Linked DNA regions of Homo sapiens: region 2 is linked to region 1. The links come from fine-mapping of genetic effects on gene expression. Tissue or cell type: prefrontal cortex. Region 1 holds a variant in brackets; the other region holds the start of a gene. All regions are shown on one strand. Distances are from middle to middle.

Region 1 (8,103 bases):
CCAGAAGAAACAATTAAAATAATCAGACATGCTTCTCTTGGGGAGTAGACTTAGAGCTGGAAAAGTAGGATGGGGAGAAGTATTTGCATTTTAAGTATGTGTAGATTTATTTATTTATTTATTATTATTTTTTAGATGAGGTCTTGCTTTGTCACCCAGACTGGAGTGCAGTGGTGCAATCACATCTCACAGCAGCCTCCACCTCCTGGGCTCAAGAGATCCTCCCACCTTGGCCTCCTGAGTAGCTGGGACTGCAGGTGCTCACCTTGGCTTCCCGAGTAGCTGGGACTGCAGGTGCTCACCACTATCCCTGGCTAATTTTTTTTAGTTTCTATAGAGACGAGGTCTTGTTATGTTGGCCAGGCTGGCCTCGAACTCCTGGCCTGAAGTGATCCTCCTGCCTCTGCCTCCCAAAGTGCTGGGATTACAGATGTGAGCCACCACATCCGGTTCTAGATATTATTTTGATAAATTTTTTTGAGGAAAAGAAGCAAATATGAAAGAAAAGAGGAAGATGGGAAGTAAAGAGAAAGAAGGATGGAGGGAAGAAGTAAAAGAAGGGAAAGCCCAGGCCTTTGGAGTCAGGGTGCCCTGTCAAGTCATATCCTCCCTTTGTTTTTGTTTTTTTGAGATGGAGTCACCCAGGCTGGAATGCAGTGGCGGGATCTTGGCTCACTGCAACCTCCGCCTCCCAGGTTCAAGCAATTCTCCTGCCTCAGCCTCCCGAATAGCTGGGATTACAGGCGTGCACCACCATGCCTGGCTAATTTTTGTATTTTTAGTAGAGATGGGGTTTCTCCATGTTAGCCAGGCTCATCTTGAACCCCTGACCTCAGGTGATCCGCCCGCCTCAGCCTCCCAAAGTGCTGGGATTACAGGTGTGAGCCACTGCGCCCGGCCATATTGTCTCTTCAAATCTTGACTTGCCTCATCTGTTAAATGAAAACGGCCTCTCCTGGCTGTCGTTAACATGAGATGAGGCTGTGAACTCAGTGTACAGAACCCAATAGGAGAAGTCTGGCAGAGCGTTCTGGAGAGAGAGTCAGGGATGGCTTAGGAGGTGTGCACTGTACCTGGGTCAAAGAAGATGATGGCTTTGAGGTAGGCATACTCATTGTCATCGATCTGCAGCTCCTGGAAGGGCAGCACCAGCTCGTCAAGGATGCGTATGGACACCCGGCTCATCTCCGCCAGCTCCGGGCAGTGCCGAGGGACAATGTAGTCATTGCCTGGAAGGGTTGGGAGGGAGGGAGGATGGGAAGTCACCTTGGGTTGACCCCTCTCCTCTAGTTTTGGCTTTTAAGTTGGCAAGATAGCTGGTGCCTGTGGGAGGAGGACCTGCAGGGATGGTGACTCCCATTTCACAGGTAAGGAAGCTGAGGCCCAGATTCAGAAGATAAGCTGCCTTGAGTCATCCGGCTGAGCTTGGAACTTGGCTTTCTAGGACCTCTTTCACATGACCCAAGCTCCATTTACCAACATGACTCACAAGATCGATGACATTCAAAGGTCACCTGATAGGCACCAAAGCATCAAGGTTAAAGGACCAGATTCTGGAACTGCACTGCCCTGCTTAAATGGCTCTGCCCCTGATAGCTGGTTATAGTTGGATAAGTTACTTAACCTCTCTGTGCCTCAGTTTTCTTATCTATAAGATGAGGATAAATAATCGAGCTTCCCTCATAGCATTGTTATATTAAAATAGGTAGTGTTTGCAAAGCAGTGAGCACAGTCCCTGGCACACAGTGTGTGCTGTACAAGCGTTTAAAATAATAACTATGCCATGAAGGCACAGGTGACGCGGGCTGGGGCTTTGTGCCATTCTTAACCACCTCTTGCTCCTACTCCAGAAAGAACATCAGAATGCACAGGTAGGCCAGGCGCGGTGGCTCACACCTGTAATCCCAGCACTTTGGGAGACTGAGGCGGGTGGATTATTTGAGGCCAGGAGTTTGAGACCAGCCTGGTCAACATGGTGAAACCCTGTCTCTACTAAAAATACAAAAATTAGCTGGGTGTGGTGGTGCACGCCTGTGGTCCCAGCAACTCTGGAGGGTGAGGCAGGAGAATTGCTTGAACGTGGCGGGTGGAGGCTGAAGTGAGCCGAGATCACATCATTGCACTCCAGCCTGAGTGACAGAGCAAGACTCTGTCAAAAGAAAAAAGGATGCACAGGTAATTCCAGGGATAACCCTGATCGTGCTCTGACTTCAATGCTGGGAATTTGGTGACTTGCATCCACATTTCCTTGCATCTGAGTGGGGTACCCAGTTGAAAACTGAGTCCTGGAGCCCTCTAATGCAAGCCTGAGGACAGGGCCACTCCTGACTAGTCTCCCTCACCCTTGCATGCCACCATGTGAATCTCCTTGCCTGGGTGAGTGCCATGCTAGGCATACCCTCCCTGGAGCCCTGGCCAGGGCAGGCAGCCGCCTCACCTAGGAGCAGCACGTCCTTGAACACCATGGATCTCTTGGTGGCTCCGAGCAGCAGGTGCTCGCCAGCATGGGCTCTGAGCAGGGCCACCTGAAAGAGAGAAGGAACAGTGTTTGCCATCTGTACCCTTGGGAAGGCTGCCCGTAGCCAACTCAGTGACGCTGGGCAAGTCAGCTTAATGCTCCCCTCTGCCTCTACCTGCCTGAACTGTGAAATGGGCATCATAAAACTACTACCCATAAAACTAGAAACCTGGAAGGGGAAAGAACATGTGCTCAGAGCTGAGAGACCTCGCGCTGACTCTGTCCTTGAACTGCTGTGTCCTTGGGCAAGAAACTGCTTCGTGCTGGGCCTCTTCTGTGTGCCTGATGAAACTGTAAGCAACATTCTGTGTGCTTTTTTTTTCTTTTTTGAGATTCTCAAAAAGGTCTATGATCCCAAAAAGTTCCAAAACTGTGGGTCCCAAATTCCCACCCATGGACCAGCTATGGAGAATTATGAAGGGTGCTTTGTAAAAATACAGATTCTATTTTTTTTTTTTTTTTTGAGACAGAGTCTCACTCTGTCACCCAGGCTGGAGTGCAGTGGCATGATCTCGGCTCACTGCAGCTTCCGCCTCCCAGGTTCAAGTGATTCTCGTGCCTCAGCCTCCAGAGTAGCTGAGACTACAGGCGTGCACCACCATGCCTGGCTAATTTTATTTTTAGTAGAGACGGGGTTTCACCATATTGCCAGGCTGATCTCGAACTCCTGACCTCAGGTGATCAGCCCAACTCAGCCTCCCAAAGTGCTGAGATTACAGGTGTGAACCACTGCGCCCGGCCTGAAAATACAGATTCTTAGGCCCTGAGATTCTGATCCTGATTTTGTATGTTTAGGGTGGGCCCAGGGATCTGTGTTTAAAAAGCTCCATAGTTGACTCTGAAGTGCAATTCTGTTTGGGAAATCATTGGTCTGGCAGATCCCTCCAGGGATCGACATTGCAGGACTCCAGGATTCTGAGAGGGCATTACAAGAACTTGGATGTGGATGTTAGGTCTCAGGGCTGGTCCTTCTCAGAGCAAATGTATGAGCACTGGCCCCTGGCAGAGAATCAGCTTGATGAAACC[A/C]TTCTCTGCAGGGGGTACAAGGCAAGACTTCTAAGACTGGAGTCATAGGTAGGGGCCCAGCAAGCTCACAGAAGGACATAGCCAGCCCACTGAGAGCCATCTGCTTTAGTGCTTGCCTGAGGACCAAAGGATGGCTTGAAACAAAACAGCACCAGGCTGGTAGCCTCAAGGATCTCATCTTCTCATCTTCAAGGTTGGGTTAGGGAGTTTGGAGGTTCCATAGCAAGCCAAACTAGAAGGTTAAAATCCTTTGTTTGTTCATTAATTTGATTGTTCATTCTTTCAGTTATCAAATCCTAAATGCCTACTAAATGCCAGACACTTTTTAAGACAATGGAGGCACAATGTTTAAAAACGAGAGACAAGGTCTCTAATCTCATCGAACTAACATTTATAGGAGAGAGGATGAACAGATAGTAGAGAACAAATAAGTACAGAGGACACAGGGTGATCACAGCATAAAGGAAAGAAGGAAGGAGAAAAGGTGGGAGGAAGGGAAGGAGGGAGGGAGGGGAGTGGAAAGGATGGTGAGAGCAATGGGGCAAGAATGGCTACGTTAGATGGGGAGGTCAGAGAAGGCCTCTAAGGAGGTGAAATTGTTGTTAGAGGAAAGAAGGCATTTGTCTGAAGATATTTGGCACAAAATAAGCCTTCAATAAATATTTGAATGAAGGAAGGAAAGGGGAAATGAATGAATGAATGAGCAAACATCTTGACTTCCTCTCTAGCTCTAGCTGCTCCTGGGCAGCCACTTGTCCTTGCCCCTTCTATTCCCCATGGATAGAAACCTGTGAGGAAAACAGAAAAAGAGGAAACTGCCTGGGAGGGAAAATCCACTTTCCATGACCAGTATGGAGGGAGGCCGAGGATGCTGATTGCCAAGCGCCTCCTGCGCACTGGGCACTGTGCAAGTCTTTCATCAGTCACTCCAGTGGCCTTCACATCGCGAAGCGGAAGACCTGGATTTGAATCCCAGTTCTGTCGCTAACTTGCTCTGTGACTTCAGGCAAATTTCTGTCTCTCTCTAAGCCCCAATCTCTTTCTGCAATTGTATCCAGGCCCAAGAAGCACACCAACTGGGAATCTAGTTTCTGGGGCAATGTCAACAAAATTGGGAAGCCCTTTGGAGGACAATGCCCCCGACTTTCCCAGGGATGCCCCACCTGCATTGGGCAAGCTGGGCTCCTCATATACCAGGAATGGGGAGCTGGGAACCCTTCTGATCCCAGGTTCAACCCCCTGATATGGCAGCTGTTCTGGGGGGTGGGCCGGGAGGTCGGGGTGGTGTGTTAATGATTGTCCTGTGTTATTGGCCACCCATCATTGCTCTCTGAGAATGCTCTGAGCCCCAGCCAGGGAGGTTTGGGTGGGAAATCGAGGTTAACAATTGCTCAGGTTGGGGGTATCTTGTTGCCCTGCTAAGCCCCTGGGAAGGAACAGGAGGGATTAAACATTAATGTAGAGACTCCAGCAGAGGGGACTGGGGCCAGAGCACAAGGAACAGGGGAGAGGGTAGGGGCGGATTGTCCAAGATCCTTGCCCTGTCGACTCTGCTAATGGAAGGAGGAACCATGGAAGAGGGCCCCGGGTCCAGCCCCTGTATGAGGCTGGGGACAAGCCAAACCAGCGTTTTCACAGTGTCCCAATGTGCAGTATTAATAGGTGTTCCAGGAGAATCTTGCCGAAGGAGTTTGAGAAGCCTCGGCCTCTGCAAAGTCAAACAACTGCCTGGACGAGACTTCTCAGAAGCTTTCACAGACTCACATGCATTGTCAGTGTCTTATGCAAAGGTGCGAAACGGGTAAGCGAATGCACCAGAGTCTGTCTCCGAAGCTGAGAAGGTGGCCCAGCCCAGCTCCTCTTCCCCAGATGGGTAACATCTCTTTGGAGGCCCAGGGGTGCTCTGGGCAGGAGCTTCATAGGTGGCATCTCCGAAATTCATCTGTCCTCAGACACACGCCACCTTCCTTCAACCCTTTCTTCCCCCTAGGGACATTTCAGTATTCCAAAAAAATGTACGGTGGGAAATATGATGCTCAGTTCAATTGTTTTGGTGGGAAACACGATGCTGAGTTCAATCGTTTTGGTGGGAAACAAGGAAGAAACTAATGTTTAGGGAGACCAGCTCTGGTCTGGCCACTGTGCAGCTTGCCCCATCACCTGATTTTTGTACTTTTCAGACACCAATGTCCTCAATCCTCCCAACCACACTCTAAAGTGGATATTATCATTTCCACTTTACAGATAAGAGAACACTGAGGCTCAGAGAGAGGAACTCATTTGCCCAGGATTAGGCAGACAACCAGTCTTAGAGCCATAGCTTAAGCCAAAATCTCCTGATCCCTGTCCTAGGGTCCCTGTCAACATCCCCCTGGGAGAGCCTCAGGTACAATGGTCAGGAGCTTGGACTTTGGAGCTTCCTGCCAGGTTCTAATCCCAGCTATGCTGGATAGTAGCTATGTGACCTTGAGCAGGTTACTTAACCTCTCTGTGCCCCAATCTCCTCACCTATGAGATGGCAGTAATAATAGTACCTTAGTACCTACCTCATAGAGTTGTTGGAGGAGCTAACTGAGTTAATATTTGTAAGGTGATTTAAAGTTTCAGACACGTGTGTGCACTACATATTTTGTTAAATAAAATAAAATCAAGCCAGTCCACGGCTATATCCCAGGTGGGCCAGCAGCCCCCTGGCTGCCCCGCCCACTGCCCACTACTGCCCACCATCCACGCCCATCCTCACCTGGTCGTCCAGGGGGAGCTCGCAGAAAGCTGGGATGTACTTGGCCCACTCAACGAGAACCAGCAGCTGCTCCTTCATGGACTCACACACATCTGCGATGCTGGCAATCTTCTTCGCCCGAATGTCGCCGTTGATCCCGGAGACGGGGGAGGTGATCTTCGAGAGATACAGGGAAGAAAATGCTGGAGATGTCCGGGCCCTCCCGCACTCTCTGTCCCCTGCACAGAGCCCCCTCCCTGGAATCAGATGTGGGGAGGGGGCTGGATAGTGGGTGCCCTCCAGCTCTGAAGGAAGCTCAGGGTAAAAACGGAGGGAGGGAGGAGGCAGGGATGAGGGAGAAGGGCTCCCTCTGTGCCTTCACCTGTTACCTGCCCCCTGCCCCCTCCTCTGTCAGCTTTAGAGCCCCAAGGAGTCTGTCAGCCTTAGAGGAGAAGCAGGGCAAAAAATCATCATCCTTTTCTGACAATGAGGCAACCATGGCTCAGAGAGGTGCTGTGACTTGCCCAAGGTCACTCAGCAAGGGAAGGGCTGGGCCCCACTTTGCCACCTCTCTCCACTGAGCCACTGCTCTGTTCTCTCGGAGCTGAGCTGATCGCAGGCCCTCAGTGAAGGTGAAGACTCTGCTTGGCCTGTGGGATGCAGGCAGTAGGATGAATTAGAAAGTGCCCCAGGGCGCCAGGTTCGATTCCTGCCCTTGCTGCAAACTGGGCCATGTGAAACCGGACTCAGTGTCCCTTCTGTAATATCTGAGGCCCCTCCCGTCAGCTGCTCCAGGGCCTGGCTGGGGAGAATGGAGGTGGAGGAGGTGAGCTCCTCTGTAGTGTGGGGGATCCCTGGGTGGGTGGCAGGATCACCCCGGTACCTGTCGGGACAGGACCTCCGCCTGCAGGAGCGCATTGATGGAGGGCAGGCTGCTGTCCTCATAGCTTGACCTTCGAGTGCTGATCCGGTCCCGCTCATTCTGGACGGCTGTGAGGAGGCACAGAGAGGTGAGGAGGGAGAACAGGGATGGAGTAGGGGGTGGGGGTGTCTGTGACTGATGAGGAGTGGGAGCAGGAGGTGGGGGGTGTCCAGAGAACAGGCCCACATCAGCATGTGGAATGAGGGGAGATGGCCTCTAACTCAGCTGGTGGAAGAACTTTCCACATATCACAACTGCCCCCAACACAATGGAGAGGCTATAAGAGTGATCCACCCATCAGCAGGGGCGCGCAAGACAGTGAAGACTCGGCTATGGGTTTAAAATTGGTCTTGAGCATTGAGGAGGGGATCTGACTAGCTTAAAGATGTTCAAGCTCTGGTCTACAAAAGGGTCCCTTTCTTTCCAAATGAAAGTGAGTAAAGCAAGCAAAACAAATTACTCTGGGTGACAAGGAGATGGCCTGGGGATTCCTGAACAAGAGGATCTGGGGGCTCCAACTGCCTTGATGGTTTTGTCCATCAGCAGGAGCTGCATGTACTCCAGACTAACCTCAGCATCAGCAAGGCCAGGCGCTGTCTCCCTCCCTCCCACTGCTGCTCTGTTCCAGGCACTGAGGGATCTGGAGCCTACGCCCACCGGGGCCCCAGGCTCCACTGCCTGCTCCCATCTGGGTCAGTCCTGGCCTGAGATAGAAGATGATCCTTCCACCATCCCGACAGTGGATGGGATAGCCCTTGGAGTCCAAGAGGCCTCACTGTGGAATGAGGCTTGGCTGATTCAGAAAGGAGGGAGGTTGAAGCTGCACCAGACCCGGCTTCCTGTCTGGAACCTGCCACTCTGTGTGCCGGTGGCAATCGCAGCCTCTCTCTGGGGCTCAGTTTCCCTACCCGTAGG
Region 2 (8,103 bases), 61 kb after region 1:
CATCTCTTTCCACTACATACTTGTCTTCCCAGCTTTCCTTGAACTAGGGGAGTCTGCCAGGAGGTTTCTGGGGAAGTTTTGCTTTTGGATAAAAGAAACAAGGGCACTGAGGAAAACCTCTTCTCCTCCTGCCTCCAGCTTCAGACACGTAAGTGCAGACATGACAGCTGAAGCTGGGACAGCCAGTTTGGGTTATAATGGGGCAAATACAAGGACCAAAGACAACGCAGTGAGGAGGGCAGAGAGGAAGGAAGGCAAGAGAGTGGGATCTGGCTGACATTGATGATCATCATTGTAGCGCTGTTTTAAGCCCATCATTTCACTCATCCAACAAATGCTTATTGAGCATTTCTTCTGTGCCAGTCACCATGTGAGACATAGTGAGACAAACAAGGCTGAACAAACTACCCAGGTCCCAGAACTCACGGAGTTTATAGTCTGGTGGGGCAGCCAGACACCACAATTCACACCAGCAACTATCTGATCAGAGCGATGACGAGAACCGCAAAGCCAAAACCAGTGTGCCGTGGAAGCACCGGAAGTCCAGGGAGGGCCAAGTCCACCCAGCATCACCACACCAAAGAGCAGCTCTTTAGAATCCTGCTAAAGCTCAAAAACATGAAACCACAACGAGGATTTCTTGCGTGCTTGCTCTGGACCCAGGACTGTTCTAAGCACTCATGGATCCTTCCATTTGATCCTCACAACAGCCATGTCTTCCTCTGCCTCTAACTGAGGCTCTGCTATGTGCCATGTCCCTGACCCACCAATGCACCTCTACTATAGTCATCTTAGGAGATGATTAATGTTATCCCCATTAGAGAACCCCAGAAGAAGATTTTTTGTTTGTTTTTTGTTTTTTTGTTTTGTTTTGTTTTTTTTGAGATAGAGTCTTGTTCTGCTGCCCAAGCTGGAGTGGCAGTGGCATGATCTCAGCTTAATGCAACCTCTACCTCCCAGGTTCAAGTGAGTCTCATGCCTCAGCCTCCCAAGTAGCTGGAATTACAGGCGTGTGCCATCATACCCGGCTAGTTTTTGTATTTTTAGTAGAGACGGGGTTTTGCCATGTTGGCCAGGCTGGTCTCGAACTCCTAATCTCAAGTTATCTGCCCGCCTCAGCCTCCCAAAGTGCTGGGATTACAGGCGTGAGCCACTGCACCCAGCCTGGGAGAGGGGTTTTGTTTCCTCGGAGCACTTGTTTCTTTTCTCAGAAAGCAAATTTTTCTTTTCTTTTTTTTTTTTTTCTGGAGCCTTCCAGCAGACTTCAGTAGCTCATTTTACAGATAAAACATGTGAAGCTCAGAGAGGGGTAATGATTTGACTCACAAGACCACACAGTTTTTTGTTTTGTTTTTTTTTTTTAAATAAGGTAGATCTAGGATGCTAACCCAGGTGTATTTTATCAAAAATATCAAATCAGGGTCTTTCAGCCACTCTCACACACATACACATAGGCACACATACACTGCAGTGAATGTTCCACTGCCCCAGGACAAAAGTGCTCATTTTTTGTGGATGTACTGCAAGGTCACTGGAGTTCTCCTTTCTCTGTCCAGCCATATCTGTGGCCTAGAGCAGAGGGCCAGCAACAGCTGGATTGTGTCAAGTCTCGAGTCAGATGACATTTTTTGTTTGTTTGTGTTTTTTTTTTAATCTTGAACCTTAGTTTTTTCTTCTGTCCTTGGAGATTACAATATTATTTATCTCAGACAGCCGTTTGGAAAATGAAACAGCTGTCTGAGAGATAATAGTAGAACATTCACTAACCCATTCATCCATCCATTCACCCACCTACCTGTCGATAGAAGCAACCATTCTAATAATTGCTGAATGTTTGCTATATAATGAGTATGACACAGGAGCAGAGATGAAGAGACATGAGGACATCCTACAAGGTGCAGAGACGTGGGAGACAGTGAAAGGCTGTCAGGTTATATTATTGTATCATCCTTTAAGAGACACTGTGGGGCCTTCTGTTCACCCCTAGCTTAGCCTTATGACCTGGGCTGTCCTTCCCCAGAAGCTGTCTGGCCCCTTTGAGAGACAATGTCTTCCCCTAGCCACAGGTTCAACCAAGTCATCCATTGGCATCTATACTCCAGGTCTTAAAATTGTGGATTAAGGGTGGCCTCACCCTTAATCTCCTCTATGCTATCTCCTCTAATCTCCCCGCTCTCTGGGAGATAGGTCCTGTTGTTATCTTCATTTTACAGATGAGGAAATAGGTTCAGAGAGGGGAAATGTCTTGCCCAAGGTCACACAGCTGGTGTGTGGGATGGGTTCCCAGGCTGTTGGTTTCTTCAGCCTCTGCCATTTCCAGTGCATCACATATTCCTGTTTGATGGGGGTCAAAGCAAAGAAGATTCTTCCTGACTAGAGTCAGGAGATCAGGCCCTGATTCTGTCATTCCCTGGCCCTCTGTCCTCAGCAATTGATGACATAAATGTTGATTGTGTCTTTGCAATGCACGTGGTATCAAGGGCTTTACATCCTTGTTCCCCACGGCATCCACCATGATCTTAAGACACATCCTAGTCCTGTCTCCACTTCAGAAAGAAAGCAAGAGGCACGTGAATGTTGAGCCGTGTGACAGAGTCACAACTAGACCCCGAGGTCTGCTGGATTCCAGAGACCAAGTTCTGTGCGGGTGTGTGATTTGAACAGGTTTATAAAAGGCACCCAACTTTTAAAAAATCCAAAATGTGTCCCCAAAAGATAAAACATTCTCTTGAATTTCCCTCCTCAGAAACAAACCTGTCACCAATTTTATTGTGTCATTCCACGAATTTTCTATGCGTGGAATGTACACGTATACGCGTGTGTACATATATACATCTATATCCGTTTCGCTATCAGCAACTACACAGTTCTTCAGTGTACCGTTTTCACTTAATTTAACTGAGAGGTTCTTCCCTGTCACACACAGATGTGCGTTGTTTCCTTGAACAATGGGATAGCATTCCACTGTAAAGACGTCTCACGCTTTATTTACCCGTCTTCCCTCTGCTGAGGGACATTGGGTTGCTTCCAATGTGGGGGTCACCCTAAGGAGTGAGCCTGAGCCTTTCACTCTCAGTAACACATGCTTTCTAGCCCTGCATCTGAGTTTCACACGTCCGCACAAGATATTCTCATTTTCCAACGCTCCACCCTGCGCGGCGCTTTCTACCTCCTCCCCATTATCCAGAGCCAACGGAGGTGCGGAGCGACCGAGCTGCCCGGTCCCACGCCCAGCTTGATAATGCACCAGCAACGTGACCTAGGCCCAGCAAGCCTCTCCTGGTGGACCTCAATTTGCCCCGCATCGAAACAGGACGGTGCTTCCAAGCCCCACCCTCTGTGGGGTTTTGGAAAGACCCCTGAGATGCATTCCCAGGAAGGCCTCTGGACAGACAAAATGAGCCAAGCCTCTGCCCCAGGGCTTCTCGGCCCCTCCCAGCACTTCTCGCACCAAGCAGGCCATGCCCCGGCTTGAGAGCTTAGGGAAGCGGTCACATTGCCTCCGTGGGGCTTCCTGCCCTTCCAGAGGAGCTCCAGGAGGAGCTTTGGGCCCGTAAGAAACACACGGGGAGGTGTCCCATGGCCTCCCAAAGCTGACCGCAGTCCCGCCCTGTCCAGTCTTCCCCCAGCCCCACTTACCGTAAGAACTCTCCACTGGAGCCCCGAGGGGCGCGTTCACGCTGACCATGGCCAAGCCCACCCAGCCGGAGAGCTGGGGGCATGGAGGAGCAGGGGCCCGCTCACAGCAGCAGCACAGCCACCAGGAGCCCGTCCACCAGGAAGGCGGTGAGTGCGGCCAGCTGCCACCGCCCGGTTATCTTATTGATTCTTCTAATCACCCAAGGTGGGTGGATACGTTAAAGAGTAACCAGTCACTTAGGGAACCCGCGGCTGGGGACTGTTGCTGTCTCCATGGCAATGGCGACCTGGCCAGACCTGAGGTCCACTCGGGTCCTAGTCCTGCACTCTGGGGTTAGGGGAACCCAGAGCCAGGTGTATGGGGACATCAGCCCCCCAATTTGAGGACAGGGCCGGAGCAGAAGGGGCTGGAGAGGTGAGAGTCCAACCTGGGTTGGGTTTTATGGCTCCAAACTATGGGTGTGTCACCATGCAGGAAGTAGTGGGAAAACCGAGGGAGGGGCAGAGGAAAAAAGGAGGGTGGAGAACTGTGTTTAGTGAGTGCCTACTGGATGCTGGGAGTTGCATACAGGCGTTACCATATTTAAATTAAACCTTGAGATGAAGGGACTGAAGGACAGAGAGAAATTGCATGCCTGGAGTCTCACTGCTAGTACATAGAGGTGTTATCTTCCTTTCATCTAACATATTTATTGAGCACCTACTATGTACCAGGCCTTGTGCTAGACTCTGGGGATATGGAAATGAGCAAAGTAGATGTACCCCCGAAACTTGTGGACTAATGGAGGAGACGGACCTTAATCAGATCGTCATTCAAAGATACTATTACAAACTGGTGAGTGATATGAGGGGTGGAGAAACATGGGGCTGCCTCCAGGCCAATGGGACAAAGTCATCCTGTCTGGCGTCTCCTCTGGTCTCCTTCCCCATTCTAAATTCAACCTGCTGCTGAAACTCACACACTCTGTTTTAGCTCCCTGGCATGTTAGACACCTGCCACCTAGCTTTTTTTTTGGAACAGCCCCGTTTCTTTTGTCTCAGTTTTGGATCTCACCACCTGCTTGGGGATTCTGAAATCAAGGTCATTCATCCTGTTAGAGAGAGCTGAAATGAGAACAGTGAAACAAATTCTGGACTCAGAAAAATCAGAAAACTCCAGCTCTATTATTTTCTTGCTGTATGTTTTTTAGTAAATTATTTCATTTCCTTATAGGAATACCTAGCTCATAGTTTGCCCTGCTTCTAAAATAGCTAATTGATAATATTCCTCTTCTCTTCCCATAGTCTCTTTTTTCAGCTTTATCAATCACCTCAGAGGGACCTTCAGCCCCTACAGATGGGCATGGGTTGCATTAAAATGTCCTTTCTTTTCTAAAACAACAGTGATAACAAACGTTAGATTTTGGGGCCGGGTGCAGTGGCTCACGCCTGTAACCCCAGCATTTTGGGAGGCCGAGGCGCACCGATCACGAGGTCAGGAGTTTGAGGCCAGCCTGACCAACATGGTGAAACCCCGTCTCTACCAAAAATAAAAAAATTAGCCGGGCATGGTGGCAAACGGGAGGCTGAGGCAAGAGAATCGTTTGAACCAGGGGGACAGAGGTTGCAGTGAGCCAAGATCGTGCCACTGCACTCCAGCCTGGGCAACAGAGAGAGACTCCATCTCAAAATAAATAAATAAATAAATAAATAAATAAATAAATAAATAACTTCGATATTTTTTAAAAAAAAGTATTAATATTCTTGGTCGGGTGTAGTGGCTCATGCCTGTAATCCCAGCAGTTTGGGAGGCTGAGGCAGGTGGATCACTTGAGGTCAGGAGTTTGAGACCAGGCTGGCCAACACGGTGTAATCCCATCTCTACTAAAAATACAAAAATTAGCTGGGTGTGGCAGCGAGCACCTGTAATCTCAGCTACTCGGGAGGCTGAAGGAGGAGAATCGTTTCAACCTAGGAGGCAAATGTTGCAGTGAGCCAAGATTGCACTACTGCACTGCAGCCTTGGCGACAGAGCCAGACTCCATCTCAGAAAAAAAAAAAGTATTAATATTTTTATATGGGGGTGGGGGAGGTTTGCTAACCCTATGTCAATTTCCCAAAATGTTCTGGAGATTTAAGTGGTACGTAACCCCCTGCATGAAGTGGCGTCATGAGGTCACATAACTACGAAGGAGCCAACACAGAACTGGAATTCAGCATCATCTGACCCCAAAGCCCGTGCTATTTCAACAGGTCTCACATTGCCTTCCTGAGCACCAGGATAATGAGGATGACAACCACTGGCATTTATGAACTCTTTAGTTTGTCAGCATTGTATATTCTTAACGTCATTGAATTGTCACTGTCAATATTCCCATTTTACAGATGTAAAAACTGGGATTCAAGAAGTTTCATTAAATCTGTTCTTTTTTTTTTTTTTTTTTTTCTGAGACAGAGTTTTGCTCTTGTTGTCCAGGCTGGAGTGCAATGGCGCCATCTCGGCTCACTTTAACCTCCGCCTCCTGGGTTCAAGCGATTCTCCTTCCTCAGCCTCCCAAGTAGCTGGGATTACAGGCACACAGCACCACGCCTGGCTAATTTTGTATTTTTAGTAGAGACGGGGTTTCACCATGTTGGTCAGGCTGGTCTGGAACTCCTGAACTCAGGTGATCCACCTTCCTTGGCCTCCCAAAGTGCTGGGATTACAGGTATGAGCCACTGTGCCAGGGAAGAGACAAGCCAAAAGTGCCACTGTAAGGTGGGAATTCCACGTGATCTCTTCGGTTTTCCATTTCTGATACTGCCTTCGAGAGCCCATTCCAAAAAATAAAGTAGGAAAGATATAGTCTAAGAACAATGAACTCACAACAGTGTCCTTAATTCTCTCTCTCTTTTTTTTTTTTTTTTTGAGACACAGACTTGCTGTGTCACCCAGGCTGGAGTGCAGTGGTGCAGTCTTGGCTCACCGCAACCTTCACTTCCTGGGTTCAAGCAATTCTGGTGTCTCAGCCTCCTGAGTAGCTGGGATTACAGGCGTGCCCCACCATGCTTGGCTAATTTTTGTAATTTTAGTAGAGACAGGGTTTCACTGTGTTGCCCAGACTGGTCTTGAACTCCTGGCCTCAAGCTATCTGCCGCCTTGGCCTCCCAAAGTGCTGGGATTACAGGCATGAGCCACCACGCCCAACCTCTTAATTCTCTTATTTCACTCATTTCCAGCATTTGGAAGCTAGTACTCACCCCATGCCTCATTTATCTCATCTGTAAAGTGGAGCAATAGTATACGTGCATGCACTTGTGCATTGATCTAGCCTTCTGCAGAGCGGGGCCCAAAGCGCTGTTAGTTCCTTCCCCTGGTCTTCCAGTTGAGCTGGTTTTCCTCTCACCCATCTTCCCCCACCCAGTTCCCATTCCTTGTGTTTTGACCCTCTTGGGAGCCAAGAGAGGGAGGGACCAGAAAGAGCCACTACACTGGATCTCAAAAGACTTTATTGGGGGTGGAATGGGAGGGGGTGACATGCACAGGATGAGAAAATTCATTCCATCCAGGACAACGTAGGGACTCCATGGAAAAGGGCCTGTTTTCCATCCCGGGTCTTCAAAGGAAAAGCTCTCCAGCCAGGCAGGGAGTGGGCCCCAGCTGCAGGGCAAGGTCTGAGGGAGGAGATTTTACTATCTCTGGAGACAAAAGGACTTTTGTGTGCTATGATCCCTGGGTGGGATGGTGGGGGGAGAGGGGAAATGGTTTATTGGAATGAGAGTAAGATTATATGGGAGAAAAAGAATCAGAGATGCAGAGACCAAAACAAAAACAGGCAGAGATAGAACGGACAGTAGACAAAAGAGAGAGAGACCGAGGCAGAGATAGAGAAAAAAAGGCCCAGAGAGAGTCCCCTCAGGCCAACTTTGGTTTTCACTTCTCAGTTCTGAGAGCCGAGGAAGCAGGAAGGAGCTGTGAGAGACTGAGCTCTAACCTTGGCCATCAAAGACAAGCTGTGCAGCTCTGGGTAAGTTACACCCTGCTCTGAGCCTCAGTGTACCCATCTGTAAAAAGGGGGGCCTGGACTCTGTCGTGGCTCCAGTACCATGCAGTGGGGGTGGGGGGGCGGATGTCCACAAGCCAATTTCAATGTTTTTCAAAATCATGGGCCTGAAATGTGCCCAACTCAGGGAGCGAATCACGAGTCCTCAAAGACTGCCCAGAAACTGGTTGACTGTTATGAGACGAATGAAAGCGGGTTTCCTTTCTTTCTTTCTTTTTTTTTTTTTTTTTAGAGACAGAGTCTCACTCTGTCCTCAGGCTGGAATGCAGTCGCTGGATCTCTGTTCACTGCAACCTCCGCCTCCTAGGTTCAAGCGATTCTCCTGCCTCAGCCTCCCGAGTAGCTGCGATTATAGGCGCGAGCCACCACTCCTGGCTAATTTTTGTATTTTTAGTAGAGACAGAGTTTCACCATGTTGGCCAGGCTGGTCTCGAACTGTTGA

Alleles and levels. Positions count from the first base shown, and alleles are read on the strand shown. Sizes are in standard deviations (SD) of each study's normalised expression.
As copies of A replace C in region 1, the expression in prefrontal cortex of the gene that starts at base 3,794 in region 2 goes down (moderate effect, 0.44 SD a copy in GTEx).

What was found. PIP is the estimated chance that this variant, and not a neighbour inherited with it, causes the effect.
Region 2: HNF4A starts here. The variant in region 1 is the best candidate, but not a certain one, in a credible set for the expression of HNF4A in prefrontal cortex (GTEx, PIP 0.59).

Annotation. Positions count from the first base shown.
Region 1 is chr20:44,412,847-44,420,949 of GRCh38, reverse strand. HNF4A (hepatocyte nuclear factor 4 alpha) reads right to left here. Exons shown (of 10, transcript NM_175914.5): 4 at 7,150-7,256; 5 at 6,288-6,443; 6 at 2,438-2,525; 7 at 1,074-1,229. Among named protein-coding and RNA genes, the nearest start is that of MIR3646, 8.8 kb to the right of the region's middle. The variant A/C (reference allele first, on the strand shown) is at 3,545.
Region 2 is chr20:44,351,390-44,359,492 of GRCh38, reverse strand. HNF4A (hepatocyte nuclear factor 4 alpha) reads right to left here and starts at 3,794. Exons shown (of 10, transcript NM_175914.5): 1 at 3,640-3,794. The coding sequence starts at 3,688. It overlaps R3HDML-AS1 (R3HDML antisense RNA 1), which reads left to right and starts at 4,251. Exons shown (of 4, transcript NR_184036.1): 1 at 4,251-4,474; 2 at 7,543-7,625. It overlaps HNF4A-AS1 (HNF4A antisense RNA 1), which reads left to right. Exons shown (of 3, transcript NR_172878.1): 3 at 1-2,749. RefSeq lists an enhancer at 5,963-6,462.